2 linked regions of the Homo sapiens genome follow. The gene in region 1 interacts genetically with each later gene. Each region holds a gene or a part of one and is shown in the gene's direction. Other genes may lie near its edges.

Region 1 (9,217 bases):
AATGGATAAATGTATGCAAAATTATAGACATGCTTAGCTTTGGTAGTATGCAGTATGTAGTATAAGGTGATTTAAAAGGACTCTATTTTGAATCACCTAGTTTCTATTGAGCACCTACCAAGCAAACATCCTTCAGCCTTGTTGGGCTTGCAGTAGCAACCTGGTGGGCAGAGTTGCTGCATTATTAGAGACCCGGTTGCAGGCCAAGCCAGGAGTGAACAGAGGGCCATGGGAGACGGTACAGATGCTCCGGCACTGGTTTTGGTTCTGAGTTCTGTGAGTTTTCAGGGGAGAGTCCACACTGCAGGAGAATGGCTACTTTGTGAAGCTTGTGGTATTTGTAGCAAGTATGAGTATGACTTCACAAATTCATTTTCTTTAATTCAAATTAAACCAGGCTCTGAACCCTCCTCCCCTGCCTCCATCCTGAGATGGATTTATTCTAAGGTATCATTGGTGCATTCCTCCCCACCCCCAATACCATGGCCACCATCATGACCACCCACCCACCCACACCACTGCCACCATGAGTGGGGGTTGAACGACAATCCAGCAGGCCTAGAAGGTGCCTAAAAAGGGGCCAGGCCTCTGATAATCAGTTCCTAAGTTTTCTGCCAATACCTGTATCATCCAAATACGCATAGACACTTGAGGCTTTGCATCCTCACAAAGTTCTTTGAGGAACTTAGCCAGTGCAGGGCACCCTGGTACTGGGGCAGCCTCCTGGAAGTACCATGAATCATCAAGTCCCTCTGAGCTTTAGTCACCTCCCCGGGCTGCTGCATGGGGAGGCCTGAATGTTCAGTCCTCACCCAATGCTCGGCTGCACTCCTCTTCCTCCCCATCGTCTCCCAGCATCACCTCTTACCAGTGAGAACAAGGCAGGATCTCAAAAGGCAAGATAAAGCATGCCAGCAGCTTCCATCCTGTGCTTAGAGGATGGATAGGCGGGAACCCTAAAGGGCCTCACTAACTTCTTGAAATCCAGGAGAGGAGCAGGTGGAAGAAAAATACAGAGAACTCAATGCAAATTAATATATCAATCAATCATCCTGCTACTGATCATGGTGTCATTTACAGGCCATGCAGAGAGCAGCAGAGCATGGTAATGAAATTCTTGGAATCTTGGTTCTACCTCTTGCTAACCATGTGACCTTGCCCCAGTTTCCTAATAAGTAAACCAAAGATGGTAATCACAGAACACAGGCCCAGTGTTGCTGAAGGATCAGAGGAGTTAATACATATACAGCACTCAGTACAATATTGAGACACAGTGACACTCGGCCAATGTTAGCTCTTATTATTATTATACTTTTTTTTTTGAGACAGGATTTCTCTCTGTTTCCCAGGCTGGAGTGCAGTGGTATGATCATAGCTCACTGTTGCCTCAACATCCTGGGCTCAAGCAATCTTCCTGTCTCAGTTTCCCAAGTAGCTAGGACTACAGGTATGCACCACCACACCTGGCTAATTTTTTTACTTTCTATTTTGTAAAGATGGGGTCTCACTATGTTGCCCAAGCTGTGTTATTGTTACTATATCTCTATTTCACTGGAGCAAATATTGACCCCCCTCATAGCACACATTCAATACATTACTTCCACAAACAATATCTTCTCTTTTCTCAAGGATGTCAATACACCCTTCTCCACAATCAGTAAGATAGGAAGATAAGGAAAGAGGGGATGAGGAAAGGAAGACTCATACTGTACTAAGCTTGCTGACCACAGGCATGAGCTCCAAACACTGCCTGCCCGGACGGCTGGTACTCCCAGGAGAAGGGACTATTCTAGCTGTGATGACGCTCCTAACAGAACGATTTTAGGAATCTTACGGGAAAGGAGTGGGGTGTGCTCTGTGCGGGGGAGCTCACCACCATTAGAGGTGTGCATCTTGCCAGTGGAAGGAGTCCTGGACTGGCAGTTGTCTCCCGACTCTTCATCTAGCTTCATCTCTTGACTAAGTATCACTTCCTCAGATGTCCTCTCTGCCCCCAATCTAAATTAGCTCTCACCTGTCATTCTCTCTTATAATTTCTTCTTTGCTCTTATTAGCCTTTATTCAACTTTCAATGACGGACATTTTGTGTGTTTATTTGTTCAGCGTCTTCTCTCCCAGTAGATTATTTAGCTGTAGAGGGCAGAGATTAAGTGTGTTTTATTGACCAAGTATAATCGCTTAGCTTTCACTTTTTAATCTGTTAAATGAGGTTGGTAATACTGCTTTTGCCCACCTCACTGAGCTGTGAAATTAAAAATGTAATACACAGGAAACTTCTTTGTAAATCATAGAACATGGTGCACATTGAATTATGCTTAGCGCCATGTCTATTGGAACGTACATCACAAACTGAACACTTGTGAAATGAGCTCCTAGACAGATTAGCATTCTGTTAAATGAGATAATAGGGAAACATGCTCAGAACAGGACACACACTGTGAAAGCTCTTATTGTGTAAGGTCAAAAATAGCAGCCCCGACCTCTAAAACTACCATATCCATGGAGTCCACACACAGTCGGCTGGAAAGAGTTAAATAGGAGCTCCCACAGCCAAAGATGTCTAAACACATGTGGGAGTGAGTAACCCAGCGCCAGTGTGTTCTGGAGCTGGGGGAGGTTTTGCAGGTCACTTTTCAAGCAAGATGTTCCTTTCCTACCAAGAGGCAAGGATGGTCAACATCTATCTTCCCCTGCTCCACGTCAGTGAGACTGCAGAGGGATGGAAGACGATTCCAGAAAAATGCCTGCTGCCGCCAGCATTTCACAGACAGCAAACGGGAGGAGGGTGAAACTCCTTAAATTCAAAAATTGCACTGATATGTGCATTACTATATGTGGAACCGGGGGAGAGCTGGAGCTGGAGAGATACAGTTGATGAATACCCCAGTGTTGGGATGCGACTCCTCTGCTTTTCATAGACAAACCAGAAACATGAAATTATCCATCCTGACAGCCGGTGTGGTGTGGGAATCACAGGCTGGTACCCACAGACCAATGGTGATAACCAGGAAGATAAAAAGACAAAGATCAGATTGGACACTGATGGGTCTTGACTCTTTATCCAATTTGCCAGTCTGTGTCTTTTAATTGAAGCATTTAGTCCATTTACATTTAAGGTTAATATTGTTAAGTGTGAAGGTTAATATTGTTATGTGTGAATTTGATCCACATTATGATGTTAGCTGGTTATTTTGCTTGTTAGTTGATGCAGTTTCTTCCTAGCATTGATGGTCTTTACAATTTGGCATGTTTTTGCAGTGGCTGGTACCAGTTGTTCCTCTCCACGTTTAGTGCTTCCTTCAGGAGCTCTTGTAGGGCAGGCCTGGTGGTGACAAAATCTCTCAGCATTTGCTTGTTTGTAAAGGATTTTATTTCTCCCTCACTTATGAAGCTTAGTTTGGCTGGATATGAAATTCTGGGTTGAAAATTCTTTTCTTTAAGAGCATTGAATATTGGCCACCACTCTCTTCTGGCTTATAGAGTTTCTGCCGAGAGATCCGCTGTTAGTCTGATGGGCTTCCCTTTGTGGGTAACCCGACCTTTCTCTCTGGCTGCCCTTAACATATTTTCCTTCATTTCAACTTTGGCGAATCTGACAATTATGTGTCTTGGAGTTGCTCTTCTCGAGGAGTATCTTTGTGGCGTTCTCTGTATTTCCTGAATTTGAATGTTGGCCTGCCTTGCTTGGTTGGGGAAGTTCTCCTGGATAATATTCTGAAGAGTGTTTTCCATCTTGGTTCCATTCTCCCCGTCACTTTCAGGTACACCAATCAGAGGTAGATTTGGTCTTTTCACATAGTCTCATATTTCTTGGAGGCTTTGTTCGTTTCTTTTTATTCTTTTTTCTCTAAACTTCTCTTCTCGCTTCATTTCATTCATTTGATCTTCCATCACTGATACCCTTTCTTCCAGTTGATCGAATCGGCTACTGAAGCTTGTGCATTCATCACGTAGTTCTCGTGCCATGGTTTTCAGCTCCATCAGGTCATTTAAGGACTTCTCTACAGTGAGAACACTGGGACACAGGAAGGGGAACATCACACACCGGGGCCTGTTGTGGGGTGGGGGGAGGGGGGAGGGATAGCATTAGGAGATATGCCTAATGCTAAAGGACGAGTTAATGGGTGCAGCACACCAACATGGCACATGTATACATATGTAACTAACCTGCACATTGTGCACATGTACCCTAGAACTTGAAGTATAATAATAAAAAAAAAAAAAGAAAAGAAAAAGATCAGATTGGACCAAAACAGACACATTTTCTTCACTACTCCATTATCTGGTTTTGTCCTATTTCTTAGGGAGGCAAGATAAGGCGTTGGCATCCTAACTGCAGTGGGTATTCCTTGTTGTTTGATGTGCATATACTTACAGTTTAATGACTCCTTAGTAAGCTCTGTGTGATCTGCAGGTTTTAGGGTGTCCATGGTTCTCCAAGGACACCAGATTCTCTGTGGTGGAGGACAGCCTCGTTTTTCCCAGGCCCTCAGCTCAGGCCTAAGCGAGGCTTGATGTTGTCTTTATACAGTAGTGACTGCCTTGAACAGTAACAAAGGTGAGCAATCGGTATAGGATAGGTAAGGCAGCAGGAAAAGGAGGGATAGGTAACTGATCAAAGGAAATAGAAATAGGCCTTGGGATGGGGGCAGGCAGGTGGGACGCCTCAGGGACCTGAGAGGGACAAAGCACCACGGCAGCTGCAAATGAAGATGGGAACACAGACCCAGGCTGAGAACATGGAGAAGCGAAGGTCCCACATGATGACACAGGAGGAGATGCGCTGGTGGTCACACCTTTCAGGGAGGTGAGTATGAAGAAGAGGAGTACAAACCTGTCAAAATTTTATTTTTAATCTTTTTTTTTTTTTTGAGAATAATTCTCACTCTTGTCCCCCAGGCTGGAGTGCAATGGTGCGATCTCGGCTCACTGCAACCTCCGCCTCCCAGGTTCAAGCGATTCTCCTGCCTCAGCCTCCCAAGCAGCTGGGATTACAGGCGCCTGCCACCACACCTGGCTAATTTTTGTGTCTTTTTTTTTTTTTAGCAGAGACGGGATTTCATCATATTGGCCAGGCTTATTTTTAATCTTAATTCATTAAATGAATGATTGCTACCAGTGTAATTGTTTTATTTTAGGCCCGGAAAAATGGAGGTTAACTTCATTGTCATCTGTCATGGAACTGTGGCCACAAAAAGAGGCGTCTCTCAGGCCAGGTACTGTAGGAGTCCGCCCCCTGCTCCATCTGTATTTTTTCCACTCACAGTCCACCTGGCATGAGAAAGGTGTTGGGATAAAGGTGAGCCCAGGGCACTGTGGGTGCCTCCGAGAGAATCTGAGCTGGGGGAGTCAGGGTCCTTCGAGAGCCTGCCATTAATATGGAGGGGGAAAGCCAGGGCTAGGCTGCGATGGGTGCTGTTGGTGGGGGGGCCAGGCCTGCACTCTGTACGTGAGGGTGAAGCTGGAGAAGGAAGCAGCCTAGAGAGGACCCGGAGCAGGGCAAACACAGATGGAGAAGCTGAGGGCAAGGAAGGGAATGACGTGGGACCCCACCCGTTGTCGGGGGCAGGCTCTGCTCTCCAGGAACAGGTAACACAGTCACTTAGAGAACAGTCACTACTTGCCCTGCCCTCCTGAGTCCCGGGAGGAAAGTGCTCGCCCATTCCTGACCTGTGACACGCTCACTGCGAAGGCAGGTTATTAGAAGAGTCCCATGAAAGTAAACAGGGTATTAAAACGGATCCTTAAAAATGAAAGTGCAGGCTGAAAGTTGGTAGTGTGGGAGGTAGAGGGTGTGTGTTCTTGTGCAGAGGAGCGTGGGGTTTGCAGAGGAGACAGGGGAGCTTTGTGTACCCGGAGCAATGAACAAGCGGCGACTTCTCTACCCCTCAGGGTGGCTCCACGGTCCCAGCGACATGCAGGGGCTCCTCTTCTCCACTCTTCTGCTTGCTGGCCTGGCACAGGTAAGTCCTCTCCCCCGACTCTTTCCCTTCCGGAGGCTATGGCCATCCTTAGTTCTTCAGGCCCAAAACTAAACAAAACGAAGATGGAGGAAGAGGGAGGATCAATGGCTTGTGGAACTACTTCATGAGAAATAGGAAGCCATTTTTCTTTCCAAATAAAGTTCTGTGTTCGTTCATGAGCTTCATGAAAGAAATGTAAAACATTTCTCCCTTTCAGGTAATGGCACCGAAGCCTCCTTTCGCTATGTTTGAACAGCGCCACGCTTTCCTATATATTTTTATAGCAGAGCCTAAGGCACAGCCTGGCACAGTGCGGGAAACAGTGTCTCTCCATGCCAGCTCCAGGCGGAGGCTCAACTTTCCATTGCTGTTTGCAAAATGTGCAAAGAGCCCCTGGAAAAACGAATTTTGACAGCGACTTTTTCCAGTTAAGTCTGTCCTTCTTTGAAAGGGGCACTTTGGAATAAACATTTACATTTTTAAAACATTCTCTTACTTTGTCTTTTCTCAGTCCATGTGTTTCTCACTTCCTGAAAGGGAAGCAGTCCATGGAGGCTTGGAAATATTTCAAGCAACAGACCAAAGGGAAGTTTAACTTACTATGAGCAATTCATTGCCTTAGTCTTTTTAAATAAGAAGATGAAAACAAGGTGACTTAATTGTTGATTTATTTACACGGTAGACAGGAGACAGAGCTTTTGAAATCTGGTGATTTAGGAAACATGGGTGTGTCTGTGAGTTAGTAGTTGATTGGGGCCATAAGTAGTAGATACATCTTAGAAAACAAGGAATTGCAAATTGTTATACCATATAGAGAGAGATTTACGATTTCAAAAGAATCATGACAAGAATGTCAGTGGTCCAGGTCATTGCTGCTGTTCTGTGGAGGGGCTCACTCCCCTGTCTGTGTGCCTCCTATTCCACTGTTCTTGAGAAAAAGCCTGTCATTGTGGATTGAGAGCAGCTAGATGTTCTTAGACAGCAGGTATTCCAACACAGAGAGATGTGTACAAAATAAACAACAACAAACACAGAAAGGTGTTACACAAAGAGCGGTAAAAATGGATTATTTTGTGCTTAACTTTGCTTTTATGAATTCATAAATTCATGAAATAGCTGATAATACCTAGCATTTACTGAATAGCTGCTATATGCCAAATACTGTGCTGGGTGCTTTATTTATTTATTTATTTATTTATTTAGAGACAGAGCCTTGCTCTGTCGTTCCAGGCTGGAGTGCAGTGGTGCAGTCTTGGGTCACTGCAACCTCCACCTCCTGGGTTCAAGCGATTGTTGTGCCTCAGCCTCCCAAGTAGCTGAGATTACAGGCCTACACCACCATGCCTTGCCAATTTTTGTATTTTAGTAGAGATAGGGTTTTGCCCTGTTGGCCAAGCTGGTCTTGAACTCCTGACCTCAAGTGATCCGCCCACCTCGGCCTCCCAAAGTGTTGGGATTACAGGTGTGAGCCACCACCTCCGGCCCAAGGGTGCTTTAGTTATTATCTTAATTATCAAAACAACTTTACAAGGTGGTCATTATTAATCCCATATTACAGAGGAGATCAAATGATGGGAAGTTCTGTAAGATCACAGAGCTGTTGCAAAGCTCGGATCTGTTGTCAAAATGCTTATTCTTTCTATTGCACCATTCTAGTGATGCTTATTGTCCTGAAATTTTGCTGTTGAAAACAATCAAAATATGCCTGAGGAAAAGTGAAAAATATAAGATTCTTTATATTTACCCACATATTGACTATGTCCAGGCCTCTTCATTTCTTCCTGTATTTCTAAGTTACTATCATAACAGAAGATCTTCAGACCGAAGATCCTCCTTTAGTATTTCTTGTGAGGCAGATCAGCTAGCAACAATTTCTCTTAGGTTTTGTTTACCCAGAAACGGTTTTTATTTCACCATCATGTTTGAAAGACAGTTTCACTGGCTATATAATTCTGGATTGACAGGATTTTTTTTTTTCTCCGTTTAACATTGTCTCTGGGCATCTTGTTCTTCTCCATCTCTCCCTCCTCCTCCTTCTTTTGATGAGAAGTCAGATCTCAGTTTTATTGTACTTCTGTATGTAATGCTTCCCCCTTTTCTCAGTCTACTGTTATGATTTTCTTTATTTTGAGATGGAATCACCCTCTGTTGCCTAGGCTGGAGTGCAGTGGCGTGTCTTGGCTCACTGCAACCTCTGCCTTCTGGGTTCAAGCGATTCTCCTGTCTCAGCCTCCTGAGTAGCTGGGACTACAGGTGCACGCCACCACACCTGGCTAAGTTTTTGTATTTTTAGTAGAGATGGGGTTTTGCCATGTTGGCCAGGCTAGTCTTGAACTCCCCGCCTCAAGTGATCCACCTGCCTCGGCATCCCAAAGTGCTGGGATTACAGGCTATTTCAGCTTCATTTTTGAAAGATGGTTTCACTGGCCATATAATTCTGGGTTGACAGGTTGTTTTTTTTTCCTTTCAACATTGTCTTTGCACATCTTCTTCTCAATCTCTTCCTCCTCCTCCGTCTTTTGATGAGAAGTCAGATCTCATTTTTCATGTAATTCAGTATGTAATGCTTTTCTCAGTCTACTGTTATGATTTTCTCTTTATCCTTGGATTTCAACAGTGTTACCTTTTGACCTCAGAGATTATCTGGAAATGCTTCAAAATTGGAAAGTTAAAGAGGCATCCGGGGGCAGTTTTGGGAGTGTGCATTTCATTAGAAAGAACACATGAAAAAGCAGGGAGGAGAAAACCAACCCAGGGAGTCCAGCAAATGGCAAGTCATGGAAGGAGAGTGTGTGAGAGCTAAAGCTCAAGAGGTAGGCAGGAGAGGGCTTTGGATAACTGGCTCAGAAGTTTAGGCTGCACAGTATGGACTATGGGGAACCCCTGATGGGCTTTAAGGAGAGGAGTAATACAACCAGACATGTTCTTTAAAGAGATTCCTCCAGGAGCAACATAGTAGATGCACTTGAAAAGTCATTCTGGAGGGAGGAAGGTCAGTCAGGAACTCGTAGTGACGGTGCTTACTTAGTAGCAATGAAATGGGGAAAAGCATCTAGTTCTGGGAAGACGAGGACAATACAATACATAGGAGAGGGTCACTGAATCGTCATAGGAGGTGAGAGGGAGGAAGACAACCCAGATGAATCCAGCTTCCTGACTCCAAACTTTGAAGAGTGAAAAATGATGACTTTTGGACTTGAGTATTTCCTGGAGGACATTTGGGTGGAGATGTCCAGTAGGTAGTTATCTCACGG
Region 2 (7,729 bases), on another chromosome or scaffold:
CGCTTCCTCATCACCCACAACCCCACCAACGCCACGCTCAGCACCTTCATTGAGGTGAGTGGAGACGGAGGTGTGGCAGGCAGGTGGCCCAGGTGTCTGGGAAGCCCGGCTGAGCTGCCCTCAGGCCTCGCAAGAGGGGTCCCCAGCCCCGGCTGGCCAGACAGGGCTCACAGCCTTGGAACAAAGCCCAGTCGCCTGTTACAGGATCCTGGAGGAGGGAGATGGGGGTGCCCCGGGGGTTGGGGTTGAGGGTGTTGGGGGATCAACGGGGTCCCCTGGGAGGCCTGCAGGGGGCTGGCGTGTGATAGGAGGGACTCCACGCTGTGTGGATAGAGGCAGGGGGTGAGGCAGGGGGATACATGGACCAGGCTGTGCGTGCTCAGCCGTGGCCTGGGCTGGGGCCCTCCCGAGCCCTTTGCTGTCCCAGATGTTGCTGGGCTCTGGATGAGGCCTCAGGTTAGACCAGGCTGGACTAGGGGCTTCAGGGCCCAGATCTCTGTGTGAGGAGGGACTGAGCAAGGGTCAGCGCTGACCACAGGAGGGAGGGACCACTGTGCCCTGGAGAGGCAGCAGAGATACCTGCCGCTGGCAACCCTGGCAGATGGGACGAGATGCGTTTACAGAAGCTTTCTTGGGAGTGGAGTCTGGAGCGACCTGCATGGCCTCCTGGAGGAGCCTGGCCTCTGCAGAACGCCCTGCTGTTTGCAGGCCTGGGGCCGTTTGCAGCGTCTGCAGTTGTGTGCGGGGCCGTTGACAGAGCCTCTGACTGTGCCAGGCTGTGTGAGAGGCTGCAGCTGTGTGCAGGGTCATTTATGGCTGAGTCCTTTCCCCTGTGACATGAGATAAGCCATCATGGTCTTGTCATAATGAAACAGATTTGGGCGTGAGAGGGCATTAAGAACTGTAGAGCAGCAGGAGGCATTGGGCACCTTGCCATCAGGGAGCCTGGACCCTGGACACTGAGCCAGGTGCCCTACAGAAGATGGCTGTCCCTCTCGCAGCTGAGACCCCTGAGATAACAGCAGCATCTACAGAAAGATTGGCGAGAACAGCACGGTGAGTGGCCAGGGTGAGGCCTCAGAATATGACTGGGATCAGGGTTAAGTCTGTAACCAAGGTCAGGTCTCAGTGTGTGACCAAGGTTGGGGCTCACTGTTTGACCAGGATCAGGGCTCTGTGTGACCAGGGTCAGGGTTCGGTGTGTGTCTGGGATCAGGGCTCAATGTGTGACCAGGGTTGAGGCTCAGTGTGTGTCCAGGATCAGGGCTCAGTATGTGACCAAGGTTGGGACTCAGTGTGTGTCCAGGATTAGCGCTCAGTATGTGACCAAGGTTGGGGCTCAGTGTTTGACCAGGATCAGGGCTTAGTGTGTGACCAGGGCCAGGGTTTGGTGTGTGTCTGGGATCAGGGCTCAGTATGTGACCAGGGTCGAAGCTCAGTGTGTGTCCAAGATCAGGGTTCAGTGTGTGACCAGGATTGAGGCTTAGTAGGTGAGCAGGGTTAGGGAGGGCTCATCCTGTGACCAGGGTTAACGCTTAGTGTCTGACCAGGATCAGGGCTCAGTGTGTGACCCAGATCAAGGCTCGGTATGTGACCAGGATTAGGGCTCAATGTGTGACCAGGGTTGGGGGCTCAGCACGTGATCAGGATTAGGGCTCAGAGGTGTGTGACTATCAAGGCTCAGGACGTGACCAGGATCAGGGCTCAGTGTGTGACCAGGATCAGGAAGGGCTCAGCCTGTGACCAGGGCCAGGGCTGAGCCGTGGGCTGGGTGGCCATTCCCTCTGCTGAGGGTGCAGAGGGCCTCTGAGGTACCCCATGGCCACAGAGCCCAGCACCCTGCCTGCTCCCTGCATTCTCAGATAGTTGGGTGCTGGCCTCTCTGTGTTCCAGGTCCCTGTCCCGTGACCAGCAAGACCCATCAGCTGATTCCTCACCCCTCCCAAAATAGCTACGAGAGCAGGTGGGGTGGGAACAGCCCCCGCACGTGACCCCTGTGGAGTGGATCCTCCGCAGTGGGGGTATAACTATCGGCCTGGCTGTGAACTACCACCACCTTTTCCCTGGTCGTGTGGGGCTTCCCTGCTGGCGTACAGGGCCCAGCTTCCTCCTGGCTGCCATCTGAGCGGTGCCCACCCTCCCTGCTCTGAGGCGCCCCAGCTGATGCCCGCCCCTCTTAGACCCTAAAAACTGGACCCATCCCTGCGGCTCAGCTGGGGTCGCTGTTCGGATGCAGGGGCTCACACGTGGGCTGGGGAGTCCAGTTCCTGCTGTGGGGACCCAGTAGCTTTTCTGGAAGAAATGTCCTTGCTGGTAGATCTGGGGTCCTGAGCACCCCAGAGGAGGGAGTGGTGTGCTGGGCAGCTGGGGTCCCAGCTGCCAGTTACCGTGAATGTAGGTGGGGACACCTTTGCCTCTGCTGGGTGGCCCAAGGGACCTAGGACAGGCTCTTCGACAGCCAGACACTACCTCGACCAGTAGTGGAGCCTGAAGTCCACTCTTGGTGGACCTCACTGCATCAGGGTCTGCCTGGCTGGAGGGTGACATGCCCTTCCCTGGGGGCTTCAGGGGCCATGACCCTGCCCCAGGGGACTGAGGGGACAGGGCTCCACCCCGAGAGGTCTGAGGGGACATGTCCAAGTCCTGGGTGACTGTGGGGGACACAGCTGTGCCCTGGGAGCCCTGGTGAGTGGGTCCTGCCCCCTGAGCCCTGCAGCCCCAGCCCAGCCCTGCCTCCTCCGTCCTCCCACCCCCAGGACCTGAAGAAGTACGGGGCTACCACTGTGGTGCGTGTGTGTGAAGTGACCTATGACAAAACGCCGCTGGAGAAGGATGGCATCACCGTTGTGGTGAGGCGCGCGCCACGGGGACCCTAGTCACTGCTGCCACCGGGGGAGGGTGGGGCGGGGGGCTCCGGGCCTGCGCAGAGGGTTTGGTGCCCCTCCTGTGGCAGCCCTGGGCATGTCTGTGCCTGGGCCACGTGTGTGTCTGGGTACATCAAGGGAAGGCCAGGGTGTTGGGCCGTGTGACCTCAAGAAAGTCACCCTTGCGCACCCGTCTTTCTGTCTCTAGGGTGGGCCAGCACGGTTCGCCAGGCAGGGGTGGCACATGCTTGGTGCATCGGCCAAGGTGGCGGGTGGGCTCCTCTGCCTGTCTCAGGCCCTCCTCTGGGCCTGTCTTGGGTGCATCTCAGTCTTGCTGCCTGGGCGGCTGGGGCCCTGTTGCCAGGCAGCAGGCTCCTGGGGAGGGCCCTTGGGCAGTTTCCTCGGCTTCTTTGGCCCTGGGGACCCAGGTCTGGGCGGGGGGTGGGGCGGTTCTGCTGCGATATCCTTGGGGGGGTGGGCCACAGCAGCTGCAGGCCCAGAGCCAGCCCCAGGGGGGTCCACCCCCGGCCCGGTGGACGACTGCCCCCCTGGTGCAGGCCTGCCCAGCTGCGCCTGGGCCTCAGTCTCCTCAGTGCGGAGCACCCCTCAGTCACTGCTTTTCATCCCAGGACTCTGCTTTTGGCTGGGGTTGCAGTTTTGTGACCTCAGCTTGGCGGTTTGGAATGGTGGCAGCGCTGGCGGTTTGGGGTCAGACAGGCCTTGGGCTGCGTCCCGCCTCTGCCCTCCCCAGCCTTGCGACCCTGCAGGTCACTCCGAGCCTTGGGTTCCTCACCTCAAAGCGAGGCTGCTTGGAAGAATGGGAGGCAAAGGCATGTCCCCGCTTCTCGCACGGGGTGCGCCCACACCCTCCCTCCCCTTCCACAGCAGCGGGAGGGATTGGGGTCAGACGTAAGTAGCCGTGACACCGGTTGTCTCTAGGAGTTGCCCTGCCTGGAGGCTGGGGAGGGGTGAGATGCCCCCGAGGGCTGTGTGTCTGCCTCAGTGGGCCCAGCGGGCTCTCCCTGGTACCAGACAGCCCCATGCCTGGCACAGTCCCTGCATGAACCCGCCTTCCCAAGACTGAAACGTGTCCACTCCTACTGCAGCGCCCTGGCCCGGGCCCTCCCCTAGGAAGACTCACGTTGCCCACCGATCTAGGGCGCTGGGGGACGGGACAGTGGGAAGCACAGGTCATCTTCCAAGACCAAATTAACCCCCAGGAGCAATGGGCCGGGGCCCGGTGGAACCGCCTGTTTCGAGTCCTGCCCTCAGAAATGTGGGCCCTGTCTCGCCCCACAGCCCTGTCTTCAGTCCTTCCTGGCACCTGGGCTGTGTGTGGCATGTGCCAGCCATCTTTGCATGCCAGCACAGGGGATGAGACCCTTTGCACCAGCCGACCCAAAACCTCTCAGGCTGCCACCGGCACACAGGCGTGAGGGATTGTGACCCCAGAACCAGAGCTCGGGCTGACAGGTGTGGGGATTAGGATTTGTGCGACTCTGGAGCAGGCTCTATTCAGAAAGGGGTGGGGTGGTCCAGGAAGGCTTCCTGGAGGAGGGGATAGCTGCAGTGTACAGGGAATGATGAGGAGTCTGAAGCACTCACCATGGGGTGCCCATAGGCAAGCTGTGCCCCTCCTGTGTGCCCTCTGGGTCTGCTGCCCCCACCCTAGTGGGCTCCTGGCACCCTCTGCCTCTCAGAGCTCCCTTTCCTCGCCTGAGCCCCAGAGCCGCCTCTCTACCCTCCCTCAGCCGGGGGTCCTCATGTCTGCTTCCCTCCGTAGGACTGGCCGTTTGACGATGGGGCGCCCCCGCCCGGCAAGGTAGTGGAAGACTGGCTGAGCCTGGTGAAGGCCAAGTTCTGTGAGGCCCCCGGCAGCTGCGTGGCTGTGCACTGCGTGGCGGGCCTGGGCCGGTGAGTGTCGGGGCGGGGTAGGGCTCGCCATGTCAGGTGGTTGGGCATCTCGTGGTCTGACAGCCTCGCTTTTGGATGTGGGTCTTGAACACACGTCCACGCGACCTTCCCAGGAGGCCCATGCCCCTAGTGCTGGGGCTCCCAGACTGGTCCTCTCCCAGCATCACAGAGAGGAAGTGCTTCCCAAAGTCTAACCCAACTTCTTCCTGCTATGGTTGAAACCATCCTGACATCTTGTGTAGGAAAGGGCTGCCGTCCCCCTCTCCAGACACAAAGATCCCCCCACACACAGCTGGGGCCTCAGACTCCCTGCTGGGAGAACGGGAGGAAGAATGGCAGCTGGGATCGGATGACATGACCAGTGGGACACCCCCATCTGCAGAGGGAGACCCAGGCGAGCAGAGTTGATAGCAGGCATGGATCCGGCTCTTAGCACTTCACCCGCCAGCTCTTATTTAACCCTCCCCCAGCAGATCACAGAGAGGTTGCCTAGGAGGGAGCCAGGATTTAGACCCAGTGCTCAGGCTGGGCTGTGAGGCTGTGGCCTCCATGGGGGAGCTTCAGGCAGGGGGGATTCTGGGCCCCTTGGGCCCCCGTGCCCTGCATCTTCAGCAGGTGCCCTGCCAAGGGGACAGGGGTGCGCAGGCTCCGATGACCCCCGCCCTGCTGTTTGCCCCCAGGGCTCCAGTCCTTGTGGCGCTGGCCCTTATTGAGAGCGGGATGAAGTACGAGGACGCCATCCAGTTCATCCGCCAGTGAGTGGCCGCGGTGGTGGGGTGGGCTGTGAGCGCTGGGGGAGGGGAGATCCGGCTGCCCACGAAGGGTGGCGGCATTGGCTGTGTGGTTCCGTCGCTCTGAGGCTGCGTCGATCAGCACAAGCTGGGCCTTGCTGCAGAAACGGGGAAGCCTGAGGTGTTTCTGATGGGTGGGGACAGCAGCCCCCGAGTGACCATGCAGCCACACAGGGACACAGCGAGGCCACCCGCCACGCCGTCCTGCCCGCCCTCCACAGACAGAGCTCCTTCTGTCGCAGCCATCCTGACGGGGGTGGAAGGACCCCCAGAGCCAGCCAGTTCAGTCCCTCCATGAAAAACTAGAACCTGAAACCCCACACCACACCGTGTCCACCCCCAGGGACGCTGACAGTGGGCTAGTGTCTCAGGACTACTCTGAGTCTAGCTGCTCACCACCCCTCCCCCCAACCCCGAGCTCTCCAGCTCAGCCCCTCCCCGCCCTCCTTAGAGGCTTCTAGGCCAGCTCGCCTGCCCCATCCCTGTCACTTGGTGGCCTCCCTGGGGAGGGCTGCCATCTGCCCACTGCCCAGGGGGTCCTGGGGGAGTCTGGCCGGGATGGCAGGGCCAACTCTGGAGGAACGGATGCGGCACCTGAAGCCTGCCCCTGCCCAGCCCACCATGTGTGTGCCCGTGAGTGTGACACACCTGTGGTACTCCTCGGACAGGCTTGGCTGGTGGGGCCATCTCTTCCTCCCAGAGGCAGGCTTGTTCCCAGCCATGCCAGCTGGCCCTGTGGGTCTGTGTGAGAGTGTGGCCCGCCCTGTGGGTCTGCGAGAGCGTGGCCCGCCCTGTGGGTCTGTGCGAGAGCGTGGCCTGCAGGTGCTCAGGTCTCCCTGGGGACCATGGGATGTGCACGCTCACACACAGACACGCATGGGGGTCATACAGGCACACATTCACAAGCACATGTGTGCCCACACAGACCCAGGCATACGCAGGCACACACTCACAGGCAGGTGTGTGAACACAGGCACATACAGACAAGCGGGTATTTGCACACATGGACACACATGGATGCACTCAGGCATGTACACACGTGTGCACTCATACATGACATGCACTCTCACACATGCGGGTGCACACCTTCCCCGGGTTCTCTCCCCACCCCACGTCTCACCGAGCAAGGGCTTGTCTCTCCCTTGTGGCTTTTGCTGTGTGGCTCCCCGCACCTGAGGCTGCGCTGGTCAGGACAGGTTGGGCCATGCTGCGGAAACAGCCAGGCCTGAACCCCAACGACTCAGAACAGCACGGGCGTTTCTTGCCCCTGTTGCGTGTCTGTTGGTGGGGGCCCTACCCGGAGGCGTGGCTGAGGGCTGCGCCTTCCCCAGTGTGCCGGCTGCTGGGCGAGGAAACGAGCACGGTGGAGCCACACGGGGCACCTGCAGCTTTGCTGGGCAGAGACTCCTCGCGCTACTGCTGCTCCCACTTCCTTGGCCAGGGCCAGCCTGTGGCCACGCCTGAGGTCATGGCAGGTGGGGATGGATGAGCCTCCAGAGGCGCTGGGTGGGCAGCCCCCGCCCCTCAACGCCTGTCACCTCAGGGCCTCTCAGGTGTGGCTGCAGCATCCTCTCCAGGAAGTCTTCCTGTTCACCCCAGCCAGGTACATGTGGTCAAGGACCAGGTGGCGGGGCAGGGTGAGCACATAGCCCAGGTCCCTGCTGTAAGGACCAGGTGGCGGGAGCAGGGTGAGTGTACAGCCCAGGTTTCTGCTGTAAGGACCCGGTGGCGGGGACAGGGTAAGCGCACAGCCCACGTCCCCGCTGTAAGGACCAGGTGGCGGGGACAGGGTGAGCACACAGTCCAGTCCCCGCTGTAAGGACCAGGTGGCGGGGACAGGGTGAGCGCACAGTCCGGGTCCCCGCTGTAAGGACCAGGTGGCGGGGACAGGGTGAGCGCACAGTCCGGGTCCCCGCTGTAAGGACCAGGTGGCGGGGACAGGGTGAGCGCACAGTCCGGGTCCCCGCTGTAAGGACCAGGTGGCGGGGACAGGGTGAGCGCACAGTCCGGGTCCCCGCTGTAAGGACCAGGTGGCGGGGACAGGGTGAGCGCACAGTCCGGGTCCCCGCTGTAAGGACCTGGTGGCGGGGACAGGGTGAGCGCACAGCCCACGTCCCCGCTGTAAGGACCAGGTGGCGGGGACAGGGTGAGCGCACAGTC

The links.
Region 2: changes in CCN6 (region 1) and PTP4A3 together harm fitness less than expected from each alone (positive genetic interaction), as found in Homo sapiens cells (one study listed by BioGRID).

Annotation. Positions count from the first base shown.
Region 1 is NC_000006.12:112,048,443-112,057,659, forward strand, and holds the start of CCN6 (cellular communication network factor 6 isoform 1 precursor), read left to right. Parts: upstream 1-5,661; 5' UTR 5,662-5,892; coding exon of another isoform or gene 5,893-5,915; coding exon 5,916-5,963; intron 5,964-9,217. UniProt on the Homo sapiens protein: Plays a role in mitochondrial electron transport and mitochondrial respiration. Through its regulation of the mitochondrial function may play a role in normal postnatal skeletal growth and cartilage homeostasis.
Region 2 is NC_000008.11:141,422,292-141,430,020, forward strand, and holds part of PTP4A3 (protein tyrosine phosphatase type IVA 3), read left to right. Parts: coding exon 1-54; intron 55-2,756; coding exon 2,757-2,849; intron 2,850-4,647; coding exon 4,648-4,778; intron 4,779-5,458; coding exon 5,459-5,533; intron 5,534-7,729. UniProt on the Homo sapiens protein: Protein tyrosine phosphatase which stimulates progression from G1 into S phase during mitosis. Enhances cell proliferation, cell motility and invasive activity, and promotes cancer metastasis.